Regions from separate parts of the Homo sapiens genome. Here region 2 is linked to region 1. The links come from fine-mapping of genetic effects on gene expression. A gene starts in region 1. The other region holds a variant in brackets. All regions are shown on one strand. Distances are from middle to middle.

Region 1 (16,139 bases):
AAGTAGCTGGGATTACAGGTGTGCACCACCACACCCAGCTAATTTTTGTATTTTTAGTAGAGACGGGTTTTCACTACGTTGGCCAGGATGGTCTTGAACCCCCGACCTCAGGTGATCAACACACTGCCTGCCACTGTCTCTCCTGTCTGTCAGTGTGGCTGTGCAGAGGACTCCTCATCAGGAGGATTTGGCTCAGATGGCTTACTACCACGAACAATACGCCAGAGCAGGACCAGGCTCAGGACTTTGTGCCTGCTCCTCACGCCCCCAGCTCCACTCCCACTGGCCCTCACCACTGAAAGTCTCCTCTGGTTTTAGGTCATTGGTTCTTGATCTATGGCGAGTCACAGACCACCAGGTTCTGACAAAAGTCACAGGTCGCACGCCCAGGAAAAGACCCCAAGTGTATACACATCCAGCGTAGGCCCCACCTTCCTACAGGTTAGGACCCCCTGCACTCAGCCCTAGGGTTTGACACATCTTTACCAAAATCCACTCTAAGAAACAGTCACACCATAACAACACCCCAAATACACTACATGTGAATAACTAGATGTTTTACCAAAAAATGCTTATCCTTCCCATAGGAAACGTACTTGGATATTTGCTATTTCAAAAAGCTTTTTAATGCCAGTTACAACCTCAAATTGATTTCATGAACCACTGCATTTTGAAACATGCTGTGTGGACCCTTCTCTAGCATGTTTCCTCCTCAGGTGCCCTTCCTTCCGCAATAATTAGTGCTAATGTGGTTAGAGCTCAGTGCAAGACTACTCCTAAACGTTATTTTTATGTATTAAGATGAATCTTTAAAGCTGAAAACCCAGAAATATCTCAACTCTTTAGTTTCAGGAAAAATTCGGAAAAGTGGGTCATTGTGATCTCACAAATTACACCGTGGAGGTGGCTATTTATTTCACCCAAACATCAAGTTGGAGTTGTACTTGCAAAAAAGGGGACATAACACAGGTAAAAATCACCACTGAAAGTAGTCACTTGGGCTGTCTCCAGGCCAATTCCCTAAATATTTCTCAAGCACCTACTAACTGCACTGCTCTTTTTTCCTAGCTGAGCAAGGAGTAGCAGCGTAGGCAACCCCTACACAAATGAACACACTTCAGGAATGGCTTCAGAAGGTGAGTCATAACAGCTCTTTGGGACTCTTCAGCACCAGCCAGGTAGACTCCATCCCTGCTAGGCCAGAGAGGGACCTGGAGCTGGAGTGTTACTGAGGTTGCTTCCTTTAGCACCGAGCTGTACAGGGAGAGTACAGGCCATGCTTGGAGGAGCTGGAGAAGCTTGAGGCAAGGGGGCTGAGAAACTTATATGGGTGGACAAGCTGGCGAATGGGGGGCAGGGGAAGGACTCCGGAGAGCAAAGCGGCCCCCAGGGCCGTAAACACTGGCTAGTTCACACTGTGGGCTGGCCACCCACCATCCTCTCTTCCTTCTTGCTATTCTAGGACCTAACCTCCTCCCCGGTCCTCAGGAAAAGTCAGCCCTGTCTCCAGCTGGGGAGTAGGGGAGTCTTGATTAAACTAAAAGAGCTGTTCTCCAATGTGACCTTGCATCAGAATCACCTGGAAGTCTTCTTAAAGCACAGCTTTCTGGGCCCCATCCCAGAGTTTCTGATTCAGTGGGTGGGGTAGGATCCACTAATCTCCAGTTCTAACAAGTTCTCAGGTAATGCTGATGCTACTGGTCTGAGGACCACACCTGGAGGACCACCAGCCTAAGCCAACCAGCACACAGCACTCTCACAGCCTCATGTTGCTGGTCCAGGGAAGGCCACGTGACCCTTTGCTCCACAGGCCAGAGGGAAGGACTGGTAGACACTGTGGCTGGGGAATCAGCTGCTTTGTCTCCTTCCCTGCTCCTGCTGGACAGGAACAAGGAAGCACGCAGTCCCACTGCCCCCAACGACCATCTCAGAATCATGAGGAGACTAACCCCCTAGGATGAAACCGGCAGTGATGGCTGGACAGAGGAGCAGAATCGAGGTCCTTGATGAAACTGCTGACATGCTGATGGAGACTCCAGTTCTCTGAGATAATAAATGTCACTGTTGGCAACCAAAAGCATCCCAACTGACACACCCCATAATCCAGGGAGAAGCTTGAACTGGGCATCCTTGTTTCCTAGTAGAGCCCTGTTTCCCAGAAACAACCATCTGCCTAAATACTTCCTTCACATTTCCAGAGTTTATACACTTAGGTCATCCTTCTTGAAAATTCAAATTAATTGGTTTGAGAATACACCCTTTAGAGATGCAAGCAACATGAGAGAGGGAAAGAAGGGCGTTCAATATGCTAGGGTGAATTAATAATAGACAGCTTCCATAACAGCAGCTGACACCACCTGCGTGAGGGCTATGGGAGGGGCAGGAAAGGGGCAGGGGGTTTTCAGGAGACATCAGAATACCACCTAGTGAGGTGCAAAAAGAGGGGCGCTGCAGCAACCGGAGGTCAGGAAAACTACCAGGTGTCTCAGGGAAAGCGCTCTAGGAGGATCCCAGGACCGGAGCTGGCAGCGGGTAAACACTTTCCTCTTTCAGAGGTCCCCACCCTTCTTCCTGGACATCAGAGGACATCCCTGTCTTCCTGACCCTATTCCAGAAAATAGACCTCACCAGAGCATGATCCCCCCACTGCCCCCACCATATACATCTGCTTACTGTGCCTAAGTCCCTCGCCAGGTGAGCCTCACTGAACAAGTTTCATATTAAAAGGCCAGCAGTCTCACCCATGCTCCAGGTTAGGGCTGTGGGCAAACACCAGAGGCCAGCTGGGCTGGCTGGCTGGCAGGCCTGGGCCTGACAGCCTGATAGGGCATGACAAAGGTATGTGCAAAGACCAGAAAGAGACATGCACACTGCACCCAGGACCCTGGCTTTCCAATCCCAGACAGGCTATGGTGAAAGGGACAGCTAAGGCCGGGTGCAGTGGCTCATGCCTGTAATCCCAGCACTTTGGGGGGCAGAGGTGGGTGGATCACCTGAGGTGAGGAGTTCAAGAACAGCCTGGCCAACATGGTGAAACCCCGTCTCTACTAAAAATACAAAATTAGCCAGGCATGGTGGTATATGCCTGTAATCTCAGCTACTAGGGAGGGTGAGGCAGGAGTACTGCTTGAACCCAGGGGGCGGAGGTTGCAGTGAGCCGAGGTTGCAGGCTAGAGCCACTGCACTCTAGCCTAGGCGACAGAGTGAGACTCCATCTCAAAAAAAACAGAAAGAGACAACTAAGAGATTAAATCCACAGAGGAAAGGCTGATCTAATTCCAAGCTCTGCCAACCACCCACACTCTGTATACGAATCCATTGTAATGCTTCCGTTCTGCACACTTACTAGGCACCAGGATTAAATGTTAATTCATTTAATCCCCCAACAAGCCTCTGGGGCTGCTACTACCAGCAGCCCAGTTTTGTGGATGAAATAACTGAGGCACAGAAAGATTAAGCCACTTGCCCAAAGTCACACAGCTAGCTGGATGCTCACAGAAAGTGCAGCACCAGAGTCCACAATAGTTCTAGGGATAAAATAAATGGTTTCGAAAGATGTGTATGCTCAGCAAAAAGGACTGTGTAAAAGAAATTCCTGATTTATAAACCAAAATACTGAAAACAGAAATTGTTGATACTGGCAAATCCAGGTAATCAATTTTTATCCCTCATTGAAAAGCTTTCATTTTTCAATCCTGTGAAGGAAGTTAGGTGATATAACTGGGTTTTAGTCCCAGTTGAGCCTCTTTTAACTACCCTCGGGGGATGCTCTAACCACTCCTCAACACCACAGCTCACCTTTGGACAGAACCTCCCACAGGATGTCCAGGGAGGCCTGGCATGCAGGGGGTACTCAGAAAAGCTTGGGTTCCTTGTCATTTAGGACTTTAAAAAAAAATTAAAAAAGCATCACACTTAAAAAAACATTCTAAAGCTGCCAAGAATAAAATTCAAAGTTACCGTAACTTCCACAATCTAGTAAGATAAGGAAAAACAGCCCAACAAGAAAAAATGAACAAAGGATATAAACAGGTAATTCATTAGAAGTTAAAATATACATTAACAAGAAAAGGTATCCAATATTTTTGGTAATTTGGGAAATGCAATTAAAACAATAATGTCTTCCTTGCCCATTAGATTGGCAAAATTAACAAGATTTATTCTCTTAAATGTTGGCCAAGTTAAAGGGAAACAGACAGTTTCAAAGCCTAATGGAAGGAGTACAAATTTAAAAAGCAAGCCACAGAAAATTTTGTGTAATGTGACTACATTTATGTTTACAATGAGAGCATCTATCCCCTGAGAAGGTCTAGAATGGGTGACACCTCAGTAGCAACGAGAATACATAGTGCCTACATCTCGGTTTTTATACCACTCTCCACTAAAGGAAACCAGGACTCTTTGGAGAAATGGCTGATTCCAGGGCTGGGACAAGGAAAGTATAAGCTGAGTCCTTGAAGATTTTGTGCCTGGAAGAAAAGTCCTCAAAGAATGATGAGCACTTGTCAAAAGGACACAAAAGCCAGACTGAAGGGACTCCCACTGGCCAAATCTAGGATAATTTGAGCAACAAAATGCATAATGGGAGTAATGGACTATAATCTATTGAATAAAGCAAGAATTCATGAGTCCAGTGATGTAAATCAAAAAGTAAATAATAGAGAAAGGAAGGTTTCTTCCTTTCAGTACAGTTCCAACTAATAAATATAGAAGGAACCATGAAAATCATCATCTGCCTACTATCATAATAATTGACTCAGGTAAGAAACATCAATGAATTCTGAAACTAGTCAGTTAATTGTATGAGCAGTAACTATATTTACATAGTCTCAAATTCTCTTCCTTTAAGACACAGATTAACTACAAAGGGAAAAATGGTAACTTTTCCATGAGATAGACACCACCTTAATTCAAGTGATCAAAGTTAGCAGGGCCAGAGAATGGGATAATCACAGCATATGCCTCCTGATGGGATACATTAAGAAGGCTGCAGCATTATTCGGGCACAGTGGCTCACGCCTGTAAACTCAGCACTGTGGTCGGCCAACGCAGGAGGATGGCGAGAGTAGGAGTCTGAGACCAGCCTGGGCAACACAGTGTGAGATCCAGCCCCTATAAAATATTTAAAAATTGGCCAGGTGCAATGGCACACACCTATAGTCCAGCTACTCAGGAGGCTAAAGCAGAAGGATCACTGAGTGGAGTAGGTCCAAGCTGTAGTGAGCTGCCATGGCACCACTGCACTCCAACGAAGGGAGACCTTGTCTCTTTAAAAAAAAAAAAAAAAAAAGAGAGAGAGAGAGAGAAAAGAAGACTACAACTGCTTCAACCTTGTGCTACTCCCGCCAGAAGTGCATAACCTGAATCTAATCATGAAACCACAGGAAACCCAATTGAGGGCATTATCTTAAAAAGTCAGTAGTCTTCAAATATGTCTATGTCGTGAAATACAAAAGAAAGACGTGGTAACTTTCAGATTAAAGGACACTACAGAGACAGAAAAACTTAATGCAAAACAGATGATCTAGGATTTTCTTTTGCTATAAAGGACATTATCGAAGCAATTGACAAAATCTAAATACGACCTGTACACTAAATAGTGTTATATCAACATTAATTTCATGATTTTTTTTTTTTTTTTTTTTTGAGACAGTCTCACTCTGCTGCCTAGGCTAGAGTGCAGTGGTGTGATCTCGGCTCACTGCAACCTCCACCTCCTGAGTTCAAGAGATTCTCATGCCTTAGCCTCCCAAGTAGCTCGGACTACGAGCACACGCCACTATACCCAGCTAATTTTTGTATTTTTAGTAGAGACAGTATTTCATCATGTTGGCCAGGCTGGTCTCAAACTCCTGGACTCAAGTGATCCTCCCACCTCAGCCTCCCAAATTGCTGGGATTATAGGCATGAGCCACTGCGCCCGGCCATGATTTTTTTTTTTTTTTTTTTTTTTGAGACAGAGTCTCACTCTGTCCTCCAGGCTGGAGTGCAGTGGTGCGATCTCTGCTCACTGCAAGATCCGCCTCCCAGGTTCACGCCATTCTCCTGCCTCAGCCTCCCAAGCAGCTGGGACTACAGGCGCCCACCACTAAGCCCGGCTAATTTTTTGTATTTTTAGTAGAGATAGGGTTTCACCGTGTTAGCCAGGATGGTCTCGATCTCCTGATCTTGTGATCCGCCCGCCTCGGCCTCCCAAAGTGCGGGGATTACTGCTGTTATGAATATCCTTGTTTTTTGGGAAATACACAGTGAAGTATTTAGAGGTAAAAGGGCCTCAAGCCTGCAACTTACTATTAAGCAGTTCAGGAAAAAGTAGTAACACACAGGAATACAAGAGAATGATAAAGCAGTGTAACAGAATGTCCACATTTGGAGAATCTGAGAAACCTTTGGCTTATTCTTGCAACTTTTCTGTAAGTCTGAAACTATATCAAAATACTAAAAAAAAAAAATTAGAGAATAACATGTGCATATGAATAGAAATATAGGTAAATTCCCTGGGATTAGCTTCATGATGGTATTTTCCTTAAAAACACAGAGACAAAATGAAGCAAGCCTGCATGGGCGTTAATATTGGTCTCCTCAAAATATGTTTTCCTCACAGAACTTCTGTTTTAGGACACTGAAAAAAAAAGCCGTTTCGAAGGCTCTCTCAAGACCAGCTCATTAATCAAGTTCTACAGAAGCACCAACATAATCAAGCCTTTTTCGCTGCAGATTTGTGCTATTTTTTTCTCAGTGAAAGTCAAAGCCTCCTGACACCATGAGTAGTTGATGATGTTGTGGCAACTTTTCTGGAATACTAAACTGAAAAGGAGCTTTTCATTTAAAAACGAAAACAGGATGAAACAGTCTTGGTGGAAAGCCTCCCCCTCCACTCTGCCTCACTGAACTCTTGAGATGTTAAGCCCTGGGCTGGGGATCAGTGGGGCAGTCGGTCCCACACCGCCTTCAGGTCCATTCCCGTGTGCATTTGAAGAGATGTTGGCTGAGAACGCTCCCTCTTAGGCAGGCAGCTGGTTAAAGGGACTTGCAGGGCTGATAGTTCTCTGTCATACACATCCCATTTTTCTAGTGCTCTACAGTTTACAAATAGCTCTCGTGTATTATTTTATTTCATCCTTCCTTAAAGTGATTTTTTTTTAAAAAACGCTAATATTCAGTTTAACAGCAATACTACAAAATATCCAGTTTTGAAAACAGGGAGGCACTATAATATCTGCCCTTGGTTCTGAATCTAGTTGGGAAACAAGACTTACCCAAGCAGATTAAACACCCTGAGACAGAATAATCTAAATGAAAAAAGTAGCTACATGATGAGTAAGGTGGCCAGGTAAGCAGACTAATTCTATAAGGAGCTCAGTAGAAACACAATGTTTCTTTCTCTTTGAATTTGTCCACATCCATTTCTTTAAGCCTTTTCTTCAAGCCAAACTCTACCAAGCAGCTCTGGCTTCACAGGCGTGTTTACTAGACATCACAGGGAATGAGGCACCGAGAGGCCCGTTCACATGCAACGCCACCCCTGGGACAGACAGCATCACGGCCTCCTGGCACCACTCCTGCAACAGACCAACCACACTGCCCTTCTTACATGGGCCCCATCATTCATCTTTCTTCAAAGAAAACAGTACATTAGCAGTCGACACTTCAGCAAAGAACCCCCAAAACAAATGCCCTAGCCTAGATCCAAAAACAAAATTTCCGTTAAAGAAAGTGTGTTTTTCAACCAAAGAAAAATTAGGCTCAATTCTAGGACAACCTATAGCAAGCAATTCTACGTGCACTGGCCAACGCCAACAGCAGCTAGATTCCAAAACAAACTCAGCAAAAAAGGCTCTGCTCTCACCTTTTAGAGATAAGAACCAGAGTCAGCAAGCGGCAGAACCATGATTCACACCGAAGTCAACCCACTCTGTCCTCAACCCCACTGGCTTCCCCATGGTCCACACAACCCACTGTGAACAGATGGACCAGTCAGAATTTCTCTGCAACACCCAAATCGCCACCCCACCCCCATTCCCTTGGTTTAAATGCCCTGAGGGGCAGGCGACAAATCAAATTCCACTCTTAGGCAGGTTCCCAACACAAGACACATTCAGTGGCAAAGCAAAAGAGAAGATGGGCTCTACCACATATAGGTCTTTCTTACCCAGAGGAACATTTTCATGGTCTGTCATTACGGATGAACTCGGGGCAGGAAGAACCCATCATTATGTAATGTCAGAGGGCAGGCGACAGGGGAAGGGAAGCGAGACCATCAACATTCCCTTCCTTCGCCCACAAAGACACAAATTTACCTCTGACATTTTGAACGTCTGTCTTCTGGGGCCTACCCATTCCTGGCTGGCTTTTCAAGAGACAGCCACAGATCCCTGCACATTTCTCAGGCCTCAATTAATTGACTAGCAAAGCCAGAGAGAAATAAAATATAGAAAGCAAAGATGCTAGAAATGTTGTCGGGGTCTAAAGGCAGGCAGAAAATGGAAGAGTTTCGAGGATGGAGACCAGATTTCCCACACGGAGATGCATGTTTACTTTCACCCGGTTATGTTTCCACCCCAAACACGGCAAGGCCTCCAGCTTCAGGAGCCCGTAGACCCAGCCCTGGAGCCGCATCGGGCAGGCACCGCGTCTGCGTCCCGCGGCCACGCGCCCGCTCGGCACCCGGCTCCCTGCTGGGGCGGCCGCGTCTTCACGGGGCTGGGGGTCGGCCGGGCTCGGATTGTTCTCAAAAGACGCCACCGCAGGTGGACCACTGGCACCGTTAGGCAGTGCAATTTCCATGAAAACCGCGGGCGCCGTCCACATCCGCCCCAGCGGGGACCTGGACGCGCCCCCGCGCCCGCTGTCCGTCCCCGGCCCCGGCCCCCGCGGCGGCCGCGTCGCCTCCTGCCCGGCCCGGCCCACCTACCTGGCGCTCCCCGGCCCCCGGCGCCAGCCGCCCCGCTGTCCCGCCGGGCTGCGCGCCAGAGCCCCGCAGCAGCAGCAGCGCCGCCGCCTGGCTGTGAAGTCGCGGGCTGCGGGCCCGGCCTCAGGTGCTGGTCCTCCTGCCCCGGCCCACGGAGCCCGACCCGGCGGCAAACCAGCAGCGAACCCTCCACGCGCGCCGCAGCCCTAGCCAGCCGCCGCCGCTCTAGACGCCGGGCGCAGCCCCGCCCTGGCCCCGCCCCCTTGTCGCGCATGCGCGCTGAGGGCCCGGCCCGCGCCCTGCGACCCCCGCCCCACTACCAGCCCGAGCTGGGTCCGCCCTCTGAGACAGTAGGGCCGGTGACCGAGCTGCTCGCGCCAATTCCTACTGCTAGGTTCCCACAAGATCCCACCCTATCCTGTGACTGCTTCACCTGCAAGGAGTTCTTGAACTTCTGGACTTGACTGAGCGATGGCATCTTCACCCTGTCATCCACTGAGGCATCTGAGGCCCTGACGGATCCCCAAGGGAAAGTTTCCTGGAGGAGCCGCGACCCGGGGATGCGCCCCCAACCTTTTGCCCTCCGGACAAGAGCACTTCCTGAAGTGCAGACGTACTCACTCCCCAGGAGATGTTTAGGAAACTGAACATTCCAACCAGACAAGCAAAAAATTAAAATCTTAATTCTTTGAAAATACAGACTTGCAAAAAAAAGAAAATTGCTAACCTCTAAGTGTATGTCCTTCCGGACCTGTTCTGGCCTGTGTGCATAAGTGTGCACTAACAGACTTGCAACAGCATCAGTCCTTACACTTTGCCCCAAGTTTCTATTTTTCCATAGACAAAAACAATAATCAGAAGTTTTGGAAGAAAATTTTCACTTTGACTTTAAAACAGCATTTCTCCTTGAGCAAGGGCAAATACTGGACTGAATGTATCCTTATCTTTGAGTCTTCACATTTTATCCGAAAAAAAAATTCTTAAAATGATTTTAATTCAATAAACCAGAATACTTCTCAGGCAGAGCATTTAAACATATAATTTGCTTCAAAAACAAAAGAGATTAACCAGTTAGGAATGGAAATTAAGAATTCTCTGAACTCATTTAGAATTATGTCTGATCCTCCTCATGTCACCAAAATACAGACAATAGTCTGGAATAAAAATAAACAAATATAAAACGAGTTTTTTGGGGAGCCTGAGGCAGGAGCATCGATTGAGCAGAGGAATTTGAGGCTGCAGTGTCAGCCTGGGAGACAGAGCAACACCCTGTATCTCTAAAAAAAAAAAAAAAAAAAAGAAAAGAAAAGAAAAGAAAAAAGAAAAAGAAAATGTCCTAGTTTTAAATTTTTATTTCTTTACTTTTTATTTTATTTCTCTTCTGAAAAGTAACTTAGTAATAAAACAGTTCCCTCTTATTATTTCTCCAGCTAAATGGAAAGAAATATTGACAGAACCTTGACTCCACAGTACAAAGTTAAAGCCAAGAAAATCAAATTTGTAGAAATGCAAAAATATTTTTGCATTTTTTTTAATTACTGTGACCAATTAGTTTGCTTGGAACAGCCCCAGTTTACATCTTTTTGCAGCAAAATTATTAATAGGGCCCTCTTTCACTCTCAAATGTATTCCTGTTCAAACAATAAATTTTATGGCCATGCTGTTTATTTATTTATTTTTGGGATGGAGTTTCGCTCTTTTTGCCTAGGCTGGAATGCAATGGCGCGATCTCGGCTCACCGCAACCTCTGCCTCCCAGGTTCAAGCAATTCTCCTGCCTCAGCCTCCCAAGTAGCTGGGATTACAGGCATGTGCCACCACCCTGGCTAAATTTGTATTTTTAGTAGAGACAGGGTTTCTCCATGTTGGTCAGGCTGGTCTTGAACTCCTGACCTCAGGTGATCCACCCGCCTCGGCCTCCCAAGGTGCTGGAATTACAGGCGTGAGCCACCACGCCTGGCAGTCATAATCAAGCTAAGAAAGTTGTTAAACACTAACTTTTAAAAAAGAAAAAAAAATTAAATTTATAAAGATTTAAAAATAGATATCAGTCTAATTTCAGTATTCATTCATTTAGTACAGTAACACTGAATGAGGATCAGCTTCCAATAACATCTGTCACTTGACTGTTATGTAATTCTGGATAATCTTCAAAGATCAATCACATTTTCAGTGTGGCAAAGAATGAGGCCCTAATTCCACCGTAGAATGAAAATTATCAAGAGAAAAGGGAGCCATGTGTTAGTTAATACTGTAAAAGGAAAATAAAATCTCGGGACCCCCAAACTCACTACTCCAAAGGGAAAAGCTAAGCTTGGGAACTGAATCATGCAAAAAAAACTGCCTTCCTTTTGTTCCTAAAGAGATAGCTGCAAGATAGAAGGCCACATATCTCCCCAGGTGGCCTCCCTCACCCTGACAATGTAAATTAACAGCTTATCGTCACAGGAATGGGACAAAGACAAGCGGAGGAATCATCCTTCCACCCACCCCAAGACAAATGCATATTTGACCTCTTCCTCTACTCTCTGTTTACTTACCTTATGTAAAAATGCATAATTCACTGTTCTTCTTTCCCCTCCTGCCCACTTTTTCCTCTTTAAGTATTGAAGTCCCCAAAACCCTCTTGGGAAAAAGCATAGGCCACAGATCCTACTGATCCTACTGTAGTTTGTGCCTCATTTTCCCAGTTGCATCCTCAACCTTGGCAAAATAAACCTCTAAATTGACAGATCTGTCTCAGACACCTTTTGGTTTACAATATCATGCTATATCTTCCCTAAGCATCACGATGTGATAGCTAAGTATGCTGGTGGTAAAGTATCTCAGTCCTTCAGAAGTTCTCAACATGGGGTCCCTAACCAGTCACATCAACATCCTCCCAGAACTTGCTAGAAATGCAAATTCCCAGACCCCATCCCAGATCTGCTGAATCAGAAACTCTAGAAGTGGGGCCAAGTGACCTGTATTTTAACAAGCCCTCCAAGGGATTCTGATGAACATACTGACTTAAATGATCTATATACAATAAGTAAGCTTAAGGGAGGGGACCACCCCTCATATTGTCTTATGCCCAATTTCTGCCTCCAAAGAAAGAAGAAGTAAAAACTGAAAGGCAGAAATGAAATCCACAGGCAGACAGCCCAGCGCCGCGCCCTAGGCCTGCTAGTTAAAGATTGACCCCTGACCTAACCAGTTATGTTATCTATAGATTCCAGATATTGTATGGAAAAGCATTGTAAAAATCCCTGTCCTGTCCTGTTCCATTCTGATTACCCGTGCATGCAGCCCCCAGTCATGTACCCCTACTTGCTCGATTGATCATGACCCTCTCACACGGACCCCCTTAGAGTTGTGAGCCCTTAAAAGGGACAGGAATTGCTCACTCAGGGAGCTTGGCTCTTGAGACAGGAGTCTTGCCGGTGCTGCCGACTGAATAAACCCCTTCCTTCTTTAACTCAGTGTCAAGGAGTTTTGTCTGTGGCTCGACCTGCTGCAAGCTGATTCAGATTATCTACATACAATAATTAAGAGGTGAACAGTGTTATCTTTAGGACTAGAACCATCCTACATGAGAATTTATCTTCAGGCCATTTAACAGGATATTTTTGTAGGGATACAGTCAGCTATCCAAATCTATGGTTTCCACATCCATGGATTCAACCAAATCACAGATCAAAAATGTCTGGAAAAAAAAATCGCATCTGTACTGAACTTGTATGGACTTTTTTTTCTTGTCATTATTCCTTAAACAATAGAGTATAACAATGATTTACATAACATTTACATTGTATTAAGTATTATAAGTAATCTAGAGATGATTGAAAGTATACAGGAGGATGTGCATAGGTTATATGAAAAAAACTACCCCATTTTATATAAGGGACATGAGCATCCATGGATTTTCATATCCACCAGAGGTCCTGGAACCAATCTCCCATGGATACTGAGGGACGACTACATAGAATATGTGTAACCTTGAGGCTGAGCACGGTGGCTCCACCTGTAATCTCAGCATTTGGGGAGGCTGAGGCGGGAGGATCACTTGAGGTCAGGAGTTTGAGACCAGCCTGGCCAACATGATGAAACCCTGTCTCTACTTGAAATATAAAAATTAGCCTGGCATAGTGGTGCATGCTTGTAATCCCAGCTACTCAGGAGGTTAAGGCACAAGAATCACTTGAACCCAGGAGGCAGGGGTTGCAGTGAGCCTGGGCAACAAAGTGAGACCCTGTCTCAAAAAAAAAAAAAAAGAAGAAGAAGAAGAAAGAGTATGTGTAACCTTGAAAACCAACAGCCCTGCAACCATAAGAGCAGTCTAGCAGCCACTGGAGGGACAAAAAGGATGTGGAGCACCTGAAAGAGCCCCATCCCCAGAGTCTTGGCACTATTTACTTGTCTGGCAGCTTCCTGGAAAAGCTACATTCCCAGGGTTTGTCTTTAATTGGCATAACTCAGAGCTTGCCCTGTGCAAATGGTCCTCTCCACAGGGCATTGTTGAAAACAATCAGTAACAATTGTTTAATATTACAGCAGCCTCAGGTAGTGACACCAGTTACAGCTAACAATAGGCTGACTGAAAAACTTGAAAAAGAAAAATGAAGAATGAGATGTCCATGGGGAGGGGGCATTAAAAAGATTTAACATAAGCTGCCTGGTGGCACATGCCTATGGTCCCAGCTACTCAGGAGGCTGAGGTGGAAGGATCACTCGAGCCCAGGAGTTTGAGGCTGTAGTGTGTTATGATTGCACCTGTGAATAGCCACTGGACAACATAGCAAGATCTCAACTATGCTATGGGCAACATAGCAAGATCTCATCTAACAGAAAAAAAAAAAAGATTAACATATTTCTGGAAATCTGAGAATGCCCAGGTTTTACTTCTGGCTAACTGTGAGGCTTTGAGCAAGCAGGATGTGAAGGCTGAGGCAAAGCTGTGAATTGTCTGCCTGAAAATTGAAGGCATGCATTAATATGCACACATAGTCCCACCATAAACAAAGGAAAAAAAAATCTTTGATTCTAGCATTTGAGGAATGATAGAGCATTTCTCTCATCATTAGTGAACAATTAAGCTAACTGAGTAAGGACTACAAATGGCTACAGTGACGTATCAGTGACTACAGATGACAAAGAATACAGACTTTACAAAATTAGTCCAAGAAAGGCATCAAAGAAATAAAAACAGTAACAACAGCAAACCCTGGGGGAAAGGGAAACATGGTTTTCAGAGTTGCCACATTACATTATTTTTAGTGTCTATATTTTAGCAAAAAGTTGTAAGACACATAAACAGGCAGAAAAGGACACAGGCTGGAAGGCAGTCAACAGACTGTCATTAAAAATGCATAAATTGTAGACTTACTAGACGAAGACCTAAAATTAGCTATTATAAATGTGTTCAAAGAACTGATGGAAACCATGTGTCAAAAATTAAAGGAAAGTATGAGAACAATATCTCACCAAAAAGAGAGTGTAGTTAAAGATATAGGAATTATATAACTATATATAAAGAAACTCTGTAATTGAAAGGTATAATAACTGAAATGAAAAATCCATTATAGGGGGACAATAGCAGGATTGAGTGGCAGAAGAATTAGCAAAATTGAGGATAAGTCCATGGATACTGCCTAGTCTGAGGAACATATAGGAAAAATCAATGAAGAAAGATGAACAGAGCCTAAGAGATCAGTAGACGCCATCAAGTATGCTAAGATATATCTAGTACCAATTGGGAGTACCAGAAGGAGAGGAGGGAGATAAAAGTGCAGAAAAAAATATTCACTAAAACCTTTCCAAATTTGATTTAAAAATTAATCTATAATCCAAAAATTTCAACAAACTCCAACTAAAATGAACTCAAAGAGAAGCATACTGAGATACATCATAATCAAACTGTCAACTAAAATGAACTCAAAGAGAAGCATACTGAGATACATCATAATCAAACTATCTAAAACCAAAGATGGAGAGACTCTTGAAAGCAGCAAGAAACAAGCAACTCCTCATGTACAAAGAATCCTCAATAAAATTAACAACTGTTTTCTCACCAGAAACCATAGAGACCAGAAGGCAGTAAGATGACACATTCAAAGTAATAAAAGGAACGGAAGGAAGAGCAGACCTAGAATTCTATATTCAGCAAAACTGTCCTTGAAAATGAAAGAGAAATTAAGACTACCTCAGACAAACAGAAACTGAGTGAATTCATTACTAGCAGATCCACCCACTAAGAAGCACTAAAGGAGTCCTTTAGGCTGAAATAAAATGTCATTAGAGAGTAACTCAAATTCATACAAAGAAAAACAACTAAGGCAAATTTAAAGTCAGTGTGTAATGCCTTTCTTCTCACTGATTTAAAAGACAACTGCATAAAAAGTAAGCATAAGTCTGTGTTGATGGGCTCATAATGTAAAAAGATAGAATTTGTATGACAATAATAGCACAAAGAAGTGGGGGAGTAAAGAGAGCTTAACTGGAGCACAGTTTGTGTATGTCATTGAAATTAAGTTCTAAAAACTCAATTGTTTTAAATTGAGAAGCTAACTGTAACCTCCAGAACAAATACTAAGAAAATGACTTTATGTATACATATTTAAATAAAACCAGGAAATTAAAATAGCATACTAGAAAATGCCTATTTACCACAAAAGAAGACAGTAATGAGTAATAGAGGAACACACAGGATATAAGATATATAGAAAATACACAGCAAATGACAGACATCAGTACTACTTTATCTCAAGTTATATTAAATGTAAATGTGGCTGAGTGTGTGGTTCATGCCTGCAATCCCAGCACTTTGGGAGGCTGAGGTGGGAGAACTGTTTGAGGTCATGCATTCAAGTCCAGCCTAAGCAACATAGTGAGACCCCATTTCTAGAAAAATTTTTTAAAATATTAGCCAGGCACGGTGGCTCACACTTGTAGTTTCAACTATTTAGGAGGCTGAGATGGGAGGATCACTTGAGCCCAGGAATTTTAGGCTACAGTGAACTATCATTGCACCACAGTACTCCAGCCTGAGTGACAGAGCAAGACTCTGTCTCAATCAATCAATGGATCAGTAAAAATGTATTAAATACTCCAATCAAAAAGCAGAGATTGTCTGAATGGACTTTTAAAAAATATGATCCAACTGCACATTGTGTACAGAGATGAATGTAAATTTTAAGGTATAAATAGGTTTAAGGTAAAATGATGAACAAAGGTATACCACAGAAACAATA
Region 2 (16,139 bases), 65 kb before region 1:
CTACAACTCCTGCTGTCTCTAGAAAGAACCAACCTTTACAAGTTAAGATAATTAGACTGAGCAATAAGCCTAGTTTAAAACACTCTCTCAGAGGTCTTCATATTTCCAGAGACAGCCCTGATCTTCTCAAAGGGTGTCCACACCCTGTGCCTGAAGGACCTGGGCTCCTGTCCTTGGGTTAATTCACCAAACAACTTACTGGACATGTTTGCTCTCGGACCATGTGGCATTTCTTCATAGAAGCATGTCCAAATCCATCATCTAAAAATAAGAAAGCGAAAACTTAACAAGCTGGTCAAACATGAAGTTTCTGAGAGACTGCAATGCCTAGAAACGTGGAGGCCAAGAGCTACTCCATGTTTGTTTGAGCTCCACACCCCAATCCAACCTTCTGGCTCAAAAATACAAGTTTTGCTCAAACCCAAAATAAATGAGAAAGAGAAAGCACATATTCCTCTCCCCTGCAGGGCTGATCTGCTGGGGGAGTCTGGGCCTGTCCTAAAGAGCCAGGTGAGCAGCTGGGTGTGGTTTAGGGGGATGAGAATGTGAGACCAGTTTCCCCACTCACAAACTGTAGGCCCTGGGAGAAGCTGCAGGGCCCTCTTAAGGCCCTGCCCTTCAGGATGGATGGGCTGCACCCATCTCATGGGGCTGCAATGAAAACCAAATGTGCGTGAACAGGAGAGGGCTCTGCAAACTCCACTGAGTTCCCACAATGCTGCTGCTGCTGGGCCCCCAGGCCCCACTCAGTCCCAGCACCACAGGGGCTGTTTGGCAGGCCACAGGGCAGGGCTCAGCTCATGAGCCATCCCTCTCAAAGCACCAGGGTCGGGGAATCAGATGACCGCAAGAGCAGAGTGCTTAGCCCAGGGCTGACTCAGTTTCTCTCACAGGCTATGCTCCTATCCCTCCCACTAGGGGTGCCCAGGGACCTTCAGTCTGGGCATCTCTGCAGACACGGCAGTGGCCTGGTGGGGGAGCCACAATAAAAATCACCAAGGGGAAGATTTGCTGGTTAACGTCAAAAGGCACACAAGTGAAGCAATGTGCAATGTGACTGGTAAAACAGGAAAGTGCTTACAGTACTAATATCTGCTTTTTACAGTAATGGTTGTACACATTAACAAAAAACTCACCAAAATGCAAGTGGCAAAAGGTAGGAATTTATAAATGAGGAACACACATGGTAAACATTTTGAAAAAGTGACCAAACTCATTAAGTAACGCAATGCTAAATATGCTTTCCTTCACCTAAATTCGTCCTCCAAAAGAGTTTTGTTTGTTCTTCAATGAGAATACACATTGCTGGAGGACCTGGGGGAAGCTGTCTAGGACTCTCCTATATTGTTACTCCATCTTAGAGTAGTTCAAACATTCAGAAAGCCATCTGGCATTAATTATCAAAATTTGTAAATGATAACAAAACTCTTGCCAATAGTATAGAACATGGAAAAGACTACTGGGTAAAAATGCTTATTGCAGCATTACTTATAATAATAAAGCAATCCAAATGCCCAGCTATAGGTAAGAAAAGAATGTTCTGGAACATCCATAAGACACACTATTATCTGGCTATCAAAATGATCATAATAAAGCCAACAGACACAGGAGAAGTTCTTCAACCCCATTAGTCATCAGGGAAATGCAAACTGAACCCATGAGATACCTCTGCACAAGCACTGGAATAGCAAAAATGACAAAAGACCAACAGTACCAAGTGTTGATGAGGACGTGGAGTAACTGGAAGTGATACTACTGGTAGAGCGTAAATAGTCACCCGCGCTGGAAAACTGGCCGTCTCTACTTAAGTTGAACATGCACCTACCCTGTGACCTGGCATACAACTCAGAGGGGGAGCTGCTAACAGAAACGCACACTTATGCTCACCAAAAGCCTGTAGAGAAGGTTTAGAACAGCAACATTCACAGTAGCAAGATACCTGAGACAACCTAAATGTTCGTCAACAGTAGAACAGATGAAACAATGGGATGAGTCTCAGAAACAACGTCAAGGGGAAAAGTTAAGACCATTCTAGGCAAATCCATTCATACGAAGTTCAAGCACAGGCCAAACGAATCTGTGGCATCCAGAGTATGGAGAGTGGTATCCTGAAGGGGTGGGTACTGACTGGGGAGGGTGAGAGGGCTTCCGGGGCTCTGGAAATGATCTGGGTGCGGGTTACACACAGACTTTACTGTGTGAAATTCACTGAGCTGTACACAGGTGATTTTTATACCCCAATACAAAGTGTATACAAGACAACATAGCATTAAAAAAAAAACTTACGTGAGTTCTGCATCATGTGTTTTTAAAGAAATAGCCCACCTTTGCTCTGTTTGCAGCCATTTAAAGAGGTACTGTACAGAGGGGACAGCCAGCAGGCGGCTGCATCAAGATGACAGCCATGCTGGGGGTGTGATCATGGGGAACTGTCTTCCTCCTTCTCTAACAGCCATACTCTTGTGTCACTGAAGATTTGCACCCCATGCTGGCCAGAGGCAGGGCAGCACCCCAGGCATGACTTCAGCTTGAAGAAGAGGCTCTTCCCTTTTGAACCTTTTCCCAGTGTGTCTAAAGCATTCCATTGCCTGCCTTGCTGCCCTGCTCAGCCTGTTAGTGAAGGTGTCGGTCACCCCCTTCACTTATGACAGTGGAGACAGGCCACCTAACAGAGGGACACATCTGTACCCCAACATCCTGCCAGCCCTGGGGAAGCTCCGAAACTCACCCATGCCTACCCCTTTCCACCTCTCCCTGCAGGGTCCCTGCCCACTCCACCAGCCTGCTCTGCCCTTAGGAGGGTGGTTTATATCCTAGGCATCATGAGGTTTCTGGAGATAGAAATGCTTAAAGGGGTACATCTACAGACTAATTTTACACTTGAGAGAGTTCACAGGTCACGGAAACTTTTAGGTCAAAAAGACCTTAGAAGCACTTCATAGTTATTTGGGGACATTTAATTAGAATCTGCAATTTAAGTCATCAAGGCCCAGAACGCAAAGCTAATTTGCACAGCTGAACTCGATTTCTCTTCTTGGTCTCATTAATATAAGGTAATTCACCAAGGATTCGTATATTCCCAAGGTCCTTGTTTTTCCTCCCAGCTCCATTTGAAGACCAGAGTTCATTAGGAGGAAAAACTGCACTTAAGCAGAAGAGGAGACAGAATGTGTGGGAGCTGTCTAGGGGGCTGGAATTTTTTCTTGGGGTCAAGAAAAAAGAAGCAATAACCCATGAAGTGAGCAGCTCCCATTCCTCACTCTGCGCACTCATGTGACCCCTCCGACAAGAGGCGGCAGGCCATCAAGTGGACAGTAAACCCTGAGGTTCTATCCCACTTCCCATGATGTCCCTTCCAGCCATGGGGGGCAGGGAAAGGGGTGGTGGAGAGGGCACTGGCAGGACGGGAGGGGTGTTAGGATTCACACAGGACTAGTGAGGTGGCAAGGCCTTCAGCAGCAGTCCTGGGAAACGTTTGCCAGAGGCCTAGCGGGAGTACTGCAGGTCCCTCCACCTCAGGAACCTCTCAGGCTCCCCGGAGCTGGAGTTGAGGGGTGAGGATTAACACATCAGAGCTCCACTTTTGCTTATTCACTGGGGTTCTTCTAAGAATAATTTTTAAAAGGAGTTGCACGGATGAGGTCACGGATGCTCAGAGTGATTTTTTTCAAGGTCACATGGAGATGAAATATGAACTATCGTTATCAACCCAAAGAAAAAGCCCAAGTGCAATGGGGGCCCCTCTCCCTGCCCCACCCACCGGATCCCGTCCTACCCCACCCCCGTCCTACCCCACCACAGCCTATTGCTGTCACTGTGGCAGCAAATGGGCTGAGAAGCTTCACTGTGCCTCTGCTCTCCAAACACAGGCAGCACAAGAGAGAAAGTAAAATGAAAGGCTGGCATGAAGCTGAGCATGAGTCAGCAGCCTCTAAGAAAGAGGCTACTTTAGAGGGGCAGAAAGAGGAAAGGACTTACTCTCAGAAACCCCAAATCCAAGACAGCTAAAATCATAGATCAGTGAGGTGTCACACCATTCACTGGCACTGAAAGTTACTATTAATAATAACCTCAGAAAGACAAATATCACCTTCCTGCAGACAGACAGGAAGGATACTGCAAAGGATGCGGATGAACCTCCAGCTGGAAGAGGTGCACAGAGCAAGGCATGTGGGAAGGGCGTGGAGCTGCCCTGCCCGCCCTATGTGCCACTCTCCGGGAACCTCTGCATGCTCAGCTATCCAAAAGCTCCCAGAACTCAGTCCTTTGGAGTTTTGGGGTTTTGTACTTTTTTTTTTTTCCAGCTTTTAGAGACAGGGTCTTGTTCTGTCTCCTAGGCTGGAGTGCAATGACATCAGGCTTATTGTAGCCTCAAACTCCTGGGCTCAAGCCATCCACCCATCTCAGCCTCCTGAGTAGCTGGGACCACACGTGTGTGCCACCACATCTGGATAATTACTAATTTTTTAAAATTAGAGATGAGGTCTCACTATGTTGCCCAGGCTGGTCTCAAACTCCTGACTTCAAGCAATCCTCCCACCTTGACCTCCCAAAGTGGTGGGATTACAGGTGTGAGCCATAACACCTGGCCTCCTTTTGGGTCTTTAATGAAAGCTTCATTATAGACATAATTAACTAAATCACTGGCCATTGATTTACCAGCTCAACCTTCAGCCTCTCTCCCCTCCCCAGAGGTGGGAGGGTGGAAGACTGTAAATTCCAGCCCTCTAATCATGGGATTGGTTACCCTGGCAACCAGCCAAATCCTAAATTTAAGAGCCCCCAGCCACCAGTCATCTCATTAGCATACAAAGATATACTCTTACCGCTCCAGAGATTCTCTCATTAGCATACAAAGATACTCTTACCGCTCCAGAGATTCTAAGAATACCTCAGGAAAAGAGGGAGGTAGACCAAGTATATATTTCACAATACCACACCCCCTCTCTAACTCCAGGTGGGGCTCAGAACACCCTGAACACATCCCCTGAGCCTCCCCTACTCCCAATATTCCCTAGGCTAGGCTTGGACCTCACCACTCTGGAGACTCCATGGTGTGAGATGACTTTAACGTAAAGACGACGGGTTCACTGAAGTGGCTCTACTAGAGCTGTTAATCCAACCTAGAAAGAAAATGTGACCCACTCTCTACCACAGTGTTCCAGACCAGCCTCC[G/A]TTTCCATGGGTCCCCTAGGGCCAGATGGAAACTGAATCTACCCAGGGATCTACTCAGACCTTGTCTACACCTAACAGGGGTCCTGGGACCCTTGGGGGCTTCAGGGCCACCAATTCTTGAAGCCCAGCAAATAAGAGAACAACGGGCACCTAGGAGGACTTTCTATGACATGGCACAAACATGGGGATGGGCACAGGGTAAGTAAAATGCAGCCACTGATGCCATAAACTGAATGGGCCAGAGCCAGAATGGCTGCGGTGACAGGGAGGGGCAGCAGGGACAAGGCAAGGCCAACAGAGAGAACAGGAGCAGTAACTCCAGAATGGCCAAGCCCAAGGTGACCAGCAAACTGGAGGCTCCACTCCAAAGACAAGGCAGCACTGGCCTGTGTGCAGGCTTGCCACAACAGCTCACATTCTGCTCCCAAGCATCCGCTCAGGTCTGTCACCAGCCAAGGTACGTGCTGCATACAGCAAAGACCAGGAAGGCCTGCTTCCAAGTATTCCAGAGCAATAGCCAATGGCAGCAGAAACTTCCTCTGGTTTATATTTGGAATGAGTGAGTAAGTGAGTGAGTGAGTGAGTGAGTGAATGAATGTCTCTACATAACCAATGAGAAAGTTAAGTGCTATGAATCAACTTTTAATGCAAAGCAAATGATAAAACAGGTATGAGAAGAAGAGCGTGTGACCATGAGATGAGAACACACCAAAACTCATTCTTCCTTAAATATGGCCAACTTGAGGGGGCCGCCCAGGAAGAAGAGGATGTTGAACACTGGAGAAAACTGCCATCTGATGTCAAGTGGGAAGGGGTTGTGGGGTTGGCATGGGTCATAAAAGCAGAAGGACTGATTCTGGGAGGCGATGCAGGAGGAGTTGGGCCTACGATACAGCAGTTGGGGTCCTTGATTCTAATTTGCCCACTTTGGAGACTACTCCAACCCTGGGTGTCCTTCCCCATCCTACGGTGCAAGGGAATAGTGGAAGCAAGCAGGCCTTCCATTTTTTTTTCTTTCAAACAAAAGCCATCTGCTTAGGAAAGATCTTAACCTTTTAAACAAAGTCAAATATGCTTCTCTAGCATAAAATACAAAAACAAAAAATGCTGCCTCAAAGGCCCAGGTATTAACTAGGATGGAAAGGCCACATGCTGCAGGAACACGGACAAGGTGGAGGGGACCTGGGAGGGGTCTCAGGAAGGCCTTCCTCATGCCTCTCGGGGCTCTGGCTCCAAGCCCACCAGGCCCCCAGCACCCTGGTCCACAAAAGGCTCTTGATACAGTTTGAACGTGTTCTCCAAAGTTCCTGTGTTGAAAACTTAATTGTCATTCTAACAGTAGTGGGAGGCGGGGCACTTAAGAGGTGATTAGGACACGAGGACTCTGTCCTCATGAATGGATTAATGCTGTTTCTGTAGGAGTGAGGGGAGTGGATTCCCGATAAATCGGGAGTTTAGCCCGATTTCCTCTCTGTCTCTCATGCTGGCTTCCACCTTCCACTCTTCCACCATGGGAAGACCCTCACCAGATGCGGGCACCATGCTCCAGGACTTCCCAGCCTCCAGACTGTAAGAAATAAGTTGCTTTTCTTTACAAACTACCCAGGCTGTGGTATGTTGTTGGAGTAGCAGAAAATGGATTAAGACAGGTGTCAACACCTGCCCTTCCGCAGACTAAACCCTTGGATCAACCTGTGAGGCCCAGAGTGGGGCCTCAGGAATCCACCCACTTGCTCAGCTAATCCCACTTCAGATCCCTCCTCCCCCATAGGTGAAAGAGCTGCTGAGCTTCTCTCAGCCTCAGTTTCTGTATAACGGAAATAACACTGGTCTCACCAGGACACACTGAGGAGCAAGCACATATGTGAAGAAACACAGAAAACATCCGCATAGAGCTCAGTACATGGGCTGTCAGCCCTGTGAGGTTGTCACCTTGGCATGTGAGGTTCTCACCTTGGCTTTTCCTAACCTCCCCTGAGGCTGGCCCCCACAGCGCTTGTACTGGAGCCATCTGTGAGCCTGGAAGCCCTTTCTCTACAGCTAAGTCTATGTGAGTTTTACCCAACTTTCCTACCTTCTCCAGTTCCTCCAACCGGAACTTTTCACCAAGGTCCACGGTACTTTGCTTGCGCTACAGTTTATAATCACCAAAAATTAGGCCCAAAGGTTGCTATTGAAAAGGAACATGAGAGCACAGGCCTGTTCCTTGAAGCAATATGGCTTGGTGGCATGGGGGAGGGGAGCCCAGGCAATGGCATCAGACCTGGTGAACCGCTGTGAAGCATGTGACCTTCCACAGGGTCCCATCTCTGTGCATCAGTTTCCTCGCCTGTCAAATGAAGTTACGACTACTGTTGGAAGGAATTCAGAGTCTCCCAATCAGAGGAGTGTGAGTGGACCCTGGACTCCCAGGGAAGTGAGGTGGGTGCTCTGTCCCTCCAGGATAGACATCCATGTTCTGAGGGGGCAGCATCATGGTCCTCTTGTACTGAAGAGGTCTGCTTCCTCCTCCCCTCAGAGCTGGGGCCCAGCCCTCTCCCACCTCCCACCTCCCAGCTCTCTATACCTGCACAGGGCAGGAGAGGGTCACTGTGAGTAAAGCTCTGACTCAAAGGACACTTAACACCCAAGCATGCTGCAAAACATCCATCCAACGCTGCTAGGGCTTAAATACAGGAAAGTAATGTGCTTTAGAAAAATCAAGCACAGGGGCCCAGTAATCCCAGCACTTTGGGAGGCCAAGGCAGGCAGATCACAAGGTCAGGAGATCGAGACCATCTTGGCCAACGTGGTGAAACCCCTTTCTACTAAAAATACAAAAAATTAGCTGGGCGTGGTGGCACGTGCCTGTAGTCCCAGCTACTTGGGAGGCTGAGGCAGAAGAATCGCTTTAACCCGGGAGGTGGAGGTTGCAGTGAGCCCAGATCGCACTACTGCACTCCAGCCTGGGCAACAAAGCGAGACTCCATCTCAAAAAAAAAAAAATTGAATCAAGCACAGGAAGAGAAGTAACATGCTGGCAATGCGTATCCCTTCTCACCTGCAGACACAAATGACCTGACTTAGGGCCCCCGAGCTTGTGCTCACTGGGAGATGTTCATTTATCTCTGGCTTTCCATTTCCCAAGCCCTACTGTCTGCCAGTGATGATGGACAGGCAGCAATGGCAATGAGTTAACTTCATTTACTTAACTGACATGCCTCATTAGTTTAATAAATATGCTTACTACTATAATACAGGGCCTGAACCAGAATACAAATGCACATCCCAGACTCCAATGGAGGGAGTCAGTCACTGTGCTACAGTCTGAATGTGTCCCCCAGAATTCCTTATGTTGAAATGTAGCCATCAATGTGATAGTATTAAGAAGCGGGGCCTTTGGGAGGTGATTAGACCCTGAGGGCTCTGGCCTCATAGGTGGGATTAGTGCTGTATGAAAGGGCTGGAGGGAACTAGGTAGGCCCTTTTTGCCCTTCACCTTTTGTCATGTGAGGACATGGCAAGAAGGCCCTCAGCAGACCCTAAATGCCAGCGCCTTCCCAACATCCACAGGTCTAAGAAGTACATTTCTGCTGTTTACCAGTCTCAGTTATTTTGTTATAGCAGCCTGAACTGACTGAGATACCTTGGATAGGGACATGGATATCCCTGTAAACAAGAGGGCAGAGGAGGATGCTCCAGGAGCAGAACAAGCCCAGACCGTTCCAGCCTTCCTCTTTCACCTCACCAGCCCCTCAAGGTTTCCCATCTCAGTAGATGGAGTTCTGTCCTTCCACTTGCTCCAGGCAAGAAATAACATCCTGGCCTCCTCCTCCTCTCACATCCCACATCCAATCCATTGACAACTCTATTAGCTCTATCTTCCCCACAAGTACGACTTCAACTCCCTTAGTACCCCAACTCCCATACCCTGGGAATTTGACCAGCGTCCCTCCCACAGTCCTCACAGTCTGTGTCCAACTGCAATGACGGGGCCTGTGAACCTCCTAGCAGTGTCTTCATCCTGCTCCTGCCCTGGCCTCTTTGCTGTTTAGACTTTTATCTGGTGTGGCCTTTGCATCAGCCACCCTCTCTGGGACTGCCCTTCCTCAGATAACAAGGCAGGCAATTCCCTCACTTCTTTTATGTCCTTCTTGGTTCCCAGCTTCTCCTGGAGTTCTTTGGGACAGCCCAGTTTACAACTGCAGCTCAGCTCCTTGTGGTTCACCCATATACCATGAACGTTCAGGGGATTTTCTGTAAGAAGCAGTTTGAAAATAAGTTGCCCTGAAAAAAGTGCTTTAAAATGTTTGTGCTGAGCAAAACAGGTGCTCACAATCTGGGAGATGAGTGAGATGTGTCAATAATCACAAGCGCAATGTCTGGGAGGTGCCAGGAGCAGCCTGGGGTGGGCGGGGATCTGCCGACTGCCTTCCACACCACACACTTCAGCCACTCTTTCTTCAGCACCTCCAATTTCTTGCTTCTGCACCTCATGCTGTTTCTTCTCTGTAAACTGGCAATCTCTTTAACACAGCAGTCCCCAACCTTATTGACACCAGGGACTGGTTTTGTGGAAGACAATTTTGGGGGGCTGGTCAAGGGGAGTGGTTTCGCGACGAAACTGTTCCACCTCAGATCATCAGGCATTAGTTAGATTCTCATAAGGAGCACGCAACCCAGATCCCTCACATACGCAGTTCACAACAGGGTTTGTGCTCCTACGAGAATCTAATGCCACCGCTGATTGACAAGAAGTGGAGCTCAGGCAGTAATGCCTGCCACTCGCCTCCTGCTGTGCAGCCCAGTTCCTAACAGGCCACAGGCCAGTACTGGTCTGCAGCCCGGGGACTGTGGACTCCTGCTTTAACAAACAGTTGAGGGTCTATTATGGAGCAGGCCTTAGGGATACAAAGATGATAAGAGGCTTGGTCCAGAGCTACATCACAAAGTGTAACAAAGATGAATGGTAGACAACCTGAGGCCCACAATGGTGGGGGCCAAGCCTCTTCTGAAGCCTTCCCTTGGGTGAGGGGCTGGCTTGCTACTCTGTCCTTTCCAGGCAGCGGCACCCCTGGGTTCTGCAGCCAGGGATTCTGGGGCTTTTTCTTGAGGTGAATCAACCCAGTGTTCCCATACATGACCCCTCTCACTCCCGCGCACCAGGCCTCATTCGTCATTTGATTACCACATCAATTTCACAATACCACAGACAAAGACAACAGGAACACTGTACATGGCGGTCTGCTGTCAGAGCTGCGTGGTTAGGACTGCAGTCAGCGTGCACCAGGAGCAGCGCGGTTCTCTCTCCTACAACAGGCAAGGACTTTGACAAGTCTCATTTCTTACTCCATTGTCACTTGAAACCACTTGAAGCCCTCACACAATTAACTGAAAGTTTGCCCGTCTGTTGTCCAGGAAGTCCTTCCAGCGTGTCACATAAATTTCTGAATAAGTGTATGAAAGGACCGAGGAAAGCATCCAGTATTTCAACCCCCTCATCAAAGGAGACATGCTGCTCCAAGAGGGCCGGGAACTGAAGAGATAAGGACACGGGCTTCCCCGTGACCTGTGAGTTGGGCTTATCTCTGAGTGTGGGTCCACAATAAGGGGGGTATCATCACTCACTCAGAGTTGTTACTCAAAGGTTCATTCCAGGAGACGCAGCTGGAAGACTGTGGAGCATGAACCCAGTCTGGCTCCTCTATGGTGGAGGCGGGAGTGCAGGAGGCTCTAAACCCCAAAGCAGGCTGGGTGTGCCTTATTCATTGCCAAAGATGGTGATTTCTCTTCCCTTTTCTTCTTCCACCCAAACACAAAGCTGTCAGGCCTGGCCTGGTGCCTGCTCCTGCTTCCCTTGCCCAGAGCTGGCCACCTGGAAGCTGGACCCTGACTTGCCCCAGCCACTAGAACAGCCTCTAACCCGAGCTCTGCTTCTCTCCTTCTTCCCTTTCAGGAGAGGTGTGGCTGCAGCTGCTCATGGCTTCTCAGGACAGAATGCAAAGTGGGCGGCCCACATCCCAGCCACAGCAATGTCCTTTGCCTTGCCGTACAGTGTTTTGCATTCACCCCATGCCCTCACCACCCACCCCCTCAACCCAGGGGATGCAGTGACGATGCCATCATGGTAAGGACAGTCATGGGAACTCCTGCTAGCCTGGCTAAGACACTATATAGAGCAGCCAGGACGCTGTGCAGGGGGGTGAGCTTAGGCAGAAAGGCGTATTTGTCTCAGGAGTCTGGGCTGAGCTAAACACCTCAGCAGGAACATGGCTGAGCTGGCCCATTGACTCCAAGGCTGGCAGCAAATGTGGCCCTTCCCCTCTGCTTACCCATGTCCATCATCCTCCCACTCTGCAAATGAGCCAGTCCACATGGTGGGAGCTGAGACAGCCCCCAACTTGAAACTCTCCAGCTCCAGCCACCAGAGGCCGCCTGCATGGGTGCTCTCCCAGTTCTCTCCAGCTTGAGCCAGGCCCCCCAGGCTGGGGGTGGGGGTCACGTTGTAGCATGGGGGCTTCAACACTACCCATGAGCTTGGGTGGGAGAAAGCTCCCACAAAGCAGTGGAGCACCACCACCCCTTCAATCCATCACAACTTTCAGTAACCAAATGGAGATTTCCCTACAGCACGTGTTTCTTAAACTTTAAACAGAATGGTCAAATAACTCTCATGTTAACTAGATGGCTTTACATTGTATCAGACACACAACATAAACACATAATTAGTCATAAACTCTTTTGTTTAGAACATTTAAACAATTAGAAAAAAAGTGATCTATAAATTAACACAAGCAAACCCCAACACAAATGAACTCGGGTTTATATTCCTTTAATGTGAGGGATGGGATGGGCTGTTTTACAGAAAGGATCAGTCACGCATAACCTTGACACTACATCCTCTACCGTCACCCAGCCTGAGGCCAGAAATGGCCAGAATGGCCCCTTCAGGGTCCACCCAGCTATTTGGTCAAAACAGCAGTGGCCAGCGGCCACCATTCCACAAAAAAGTGAGTTGCCAAGCAGGGCAGAGGAGGGGGATGTGGCTACACCTCCCTGGACTGTGAACGAGGATCAAAGCACCCCAGACCGCAGACTCTCCAAAATGTCGTTTTCCTCCTCTGAATGAAATCAAGATTGTTTCAGGAAACAAACGCAGCTTTAGGGCTTGCTGTGTGAAAATGCAGCCCTGAAAATGCTGAGTTCCTTTCCTTGACTCCCCCTCCCTGCCACAGGGGAGTGCCCGCATTGTGGGCCACTCCAGGAGGCAAAGTCCAAATGTGCCCAGGACCCCTTCCTCTTGTGAGGAGCAGCCACCATTCCTCCCCTCGGTCTGTTCACAGCATCGTGTTCTCCCAGGACTTCAACAGTGTCTGCTGCCAATGCAAGCAAGGGACGTAGTTTCTCACAATGTTTCCAATCCACAGAAGAGGGTCAAGAGAGGAGGAGACCAAGAACTTCTCAGGCCAAGGTGCCTTCTGCCCGCTCACCTGCCTCATCTGGTCTCCATGGGAGGAAACACCTTGTCTAGAGGTCTCTGTAGGTAAAAAATCTCAAGGGGGAAGAAATATAAGTGTGAGCAACAACAACACAGCTTGCAAATGCTGCCCACATGTTTTGACTCGCCTGGTCCTCACACCACACCGCTGGGCTGGGAGAGACAGCTATTCTAGTTTGATGCCTGGGAGCCAGGCTCACAATGGTAGAGGGGCTCCCTCAAGGTCAGCAGCAGCAGCAGAAGTAGGACCTAAAGGCAGGCCTTACTAGTCCAGTGCTCTTTCCGATATGCAGAAGAGAGTGCAGAGCACATTAATTCGACTACTACCAAATGCTAATAAAAGGCATCATCTTTTTCAGTTGTAGAGTTCCTCATTATGTCCCGCCCTGTCCCCACCCATGTCTTCATAAGCATCTCCTGTGGTTACTCAGTCTCTGACTCCATCTCCAGCTTTTCCCATCAAGCAACACTAAATTCTAGTCAGGAAACAGGGCTTCCTAGAGAAGCAAAAGGCAGAACTTTAGGATGAGAGCAGATTCTTTTTTGTATCATTCATGTTTGATTTTCTTTTCTTAAATTAAGCTGAAATTAAACCCCTCGAAGAAATATTGTTATTGTTTCTGTCAAAAATAGTTAAAAAATAAAGTTTAAAAAACAAAAATTTGTGAACAGGATAAACAGACAAAACCTAGCCAACAATATCAACTAATAGCAAAGTGAAAAAGCAAGAATATTCTGTATTTCTAATGGTGGAGACAGGGATTCTATAAATATTGTACAGAAATAATATATTTCAACAGGAAAGTGGAAGGGGAAATGCACCCTCCTGCTGAATCAGCAAGACACAACTCAAGCCCAGGCGTCTGTGGTGACGGCTGGCTCTGTGAGCAGGGCTCCTCTGCTCTGCTTTTATGACTACTGTGTTTTATTTGTAACTTCCTTCTATTTACTATTACCAACAGGTTTTACTCAATCCTAATTTGGTAAGGGAAGAGTGTGCAAGCTGTTTTGAGAAACAGTCACCGCTGTCTCCAATTCTCTCTGGTGACATACACCTCACAGTTCAAGAATAAAGCATGTGTCCTCTCTCTCCTACAAAAGCTCCCACGTCCTCTCTTTCAGGTTCAACAAGGAAGCACTGCAGGGAAAGTGAACGAGCTCATCACTCTGGCTGGACACATAAAAAGTCAGGCCCCACATGGGAAACGCAAGCCTCCACCAAGGTCAGCCCACTCATGAGACACAACAGTCCCAAAGGCTCGCCCAGTACTTTTCCCCAAACCTAAAGGCAAAGTGCACCCTTGGAAGAAGAGGTGGGCATCCATGCCACCTCCTAGAGGGGTTGGGCAGATCCCAGCAGGAGGCTGCCTGAACCTTTTCTAAATGGGAAGCTTTGTGTTCTAGTTTATGCCAGGTCAGTGAGCAACCATTAAGCCAACTTTTGGTTTTGTTTACTAGAAAGCAAGTTATTAGTATAGTACTTTAATATTCAGGCAACTTTCAAAAGTCCATGCTAACAGAGCTTTGGGAAAACAAAGAAAAGACAGAGAGCCTAGAGTGAATCTGGTAAGATGGTCTCAGGCTTGCTCAATCACATGATGCAGAATGTCAAGGCCAGCCAAAGCTGTAGATCCCCCTTGCCATTGCCAGTCCTGCACCTTCAGCAGGATGGCACGTGGGCCTGAAGAGGCACTGAAGATTAACACCACACACATCATTTCCTTCTACAGCGCCACGTTAAGAGCAGAACTGATAATAAGTTGAAAGTTAATAATAACGTGCTTCAGACAAGTGGAGTCAGGCAGGCTCTGTTTATTTTTCTAAGCACTAGGAAAGCCTGCCTTCTAATTCGCAAGTGTCAAAATTGGCTTCACGAGAAAATAAAAAATTTTCTGAGTAGCAACAAAATTCCATAAAGGGCTATAAATGTGAAGCAACCATCACAGATCAATGAAATGCCGGGAAGACAATGCTATTTTAGAAACCAGGCAGTAAGCCAGGAGACTGGGGATGACCTGCCCAAGGCCTCCAAGTGGCAGCACCAACGTTACAATGCTGTTTCTAGCTTCCTCAACAACAAACTGAAATCAGGGAGAGACATCTTGGTCCTCTAGGTCCCATGGAAACACAAAGTGGTCACACATTCAGCAACTTTACTACATGTAGATCTCTGGCAAAGTGGTGTATAACCTGTTTATTTTAGCTGTGAAAATGGAATCCTGTTTGAAACATTCAGTGTTGGGGTGAACACTTAGCAGAGACACAAAAGGACTTCAGTCTTCCCTATTCTCATTAAAACAAATCAAAAGGGCAGCAAGCAGTCCTGATGTTTATATAGGACCTTCCTGGAGAGAGGGTTCTATGGCTTCAGCTACTCGGCTGTGTTGCTGGTTGTTCAGCGTTCCGTGTTTGGTGAGGGAGGACCCCCACTGGCAGTCCTCCATGGGCCTCTTCCACAGTGAACTGACCACAGCTCTTTATTGCAAAGCTGACAGTGGCTGGAATAATGAAACCTCAAAAAGAAATGCAGTTTTTAAAAGAGTGCAATAAGCTGTGCCTCTGAGGCCCATGCCCTTCCTTGGGCAGTGCTCTGTAGCTACCCACCAGAGCTGTGGTTGAGTAAGTTCAACCATGTAGGGACAAGTGCCAACTGACACGCAGCACCTTCATGCTCAACAGCAACATCTGCCTTCTTCTCATGTGGCACCTCTTCTCAACCAGCAGCAAAGATCAGGCTAATAGGGAAGGGACCAGGGCAGAAGACAGGAGCCCTGCCTGCAGGAGAAGGAGTCTCTGTCATCCTGTCACGCAAGCCTGGTTTGATGACCTGAAATGCCTTCTGATGAGAGTGTCCAAAGGAGTCTGTAATCTGGAACTGTCCATTCATCTGTTCAACAAGTACTGAGCTAGGCACTTACAGTGAACACACAAGTGAATCAGAAGTGATCTCTGCCTGCAAGAATCCAACAGTTTAATGATGGAGTAAAACATTCAGATAACACAACTCCAAGACAAAATGAGATGCATGCCCCATGCTGCTACAGAGGCAAGGAAGAAGCTTGAAATCTGGCAAAAGATGATCCAGATGAGGTGCGAGTTGATCTGACTTCAAAAGGAACAGGCACAGGTGCATCCAGCAACAAGCACTCACTCAGGAAACAGGAAAGTCTTGTGTATCAAGGACAGAGAATGGGGCTGGAGAGCCAGGACGAGGTCAATTCTGGAGATCCTTTAACACCAGACCACAGAGCTGGGTTTTAGCTTGCAGGCAGTGAAGAACTCCCTAGGATCTCAATTGTTCAAACCAATCTCAAAAGTCCTGGTACTCTCTTGGACTCTCCTACTGGGCTTTTGAAGACAAATCTCTTTCTCACTTGGGGCAAACCAGGGAGGAACCTGCCCACAAGAATTGCAATGAGCATCCCTTCTCACCAGCAAAGACAGACCCCTGCTCAGACCTGGCAAAGCTGGGTCAAGATGGCACCCA

What was found.
Region 2: its variant is fine-mapped to the expression of INPP4A in whole blood (TOPMed, PIP above 0.99).

The regions. Positions count from the first base shown.
Region 1 is chr2:98,437,861-98,453,999 of GRCh38, reverse strand. INPP4A (inositol polyphosphate-4-phosphatase type I A) reads right to left here and starts at 9,142. Exons shown (of 25, transcript NM_001134225.2): 1 at 8,915-9,142. RefSeq lists a silencer at 8,673-9,312 and an enhancer at 15,190-15,239.
Region 2 is chr2:98,503,086-98,519,224 of GRCh38, reverse strand. INPP4A (inositol polyphosphate-4-phosphatase type I A) reads right to left here. Exons shown (of 25, transcript NM_001134225.2): 2 at 200-261. Among named protein-coding and RNA genes, the nearest start is that of INPP4A, 66 kb to the right of the region's middle. RefSeq lists enhancers at 10,844-10,903, 11,364-11,423. The variant G/A (reference allele first, on the strand shown) is at 5,176.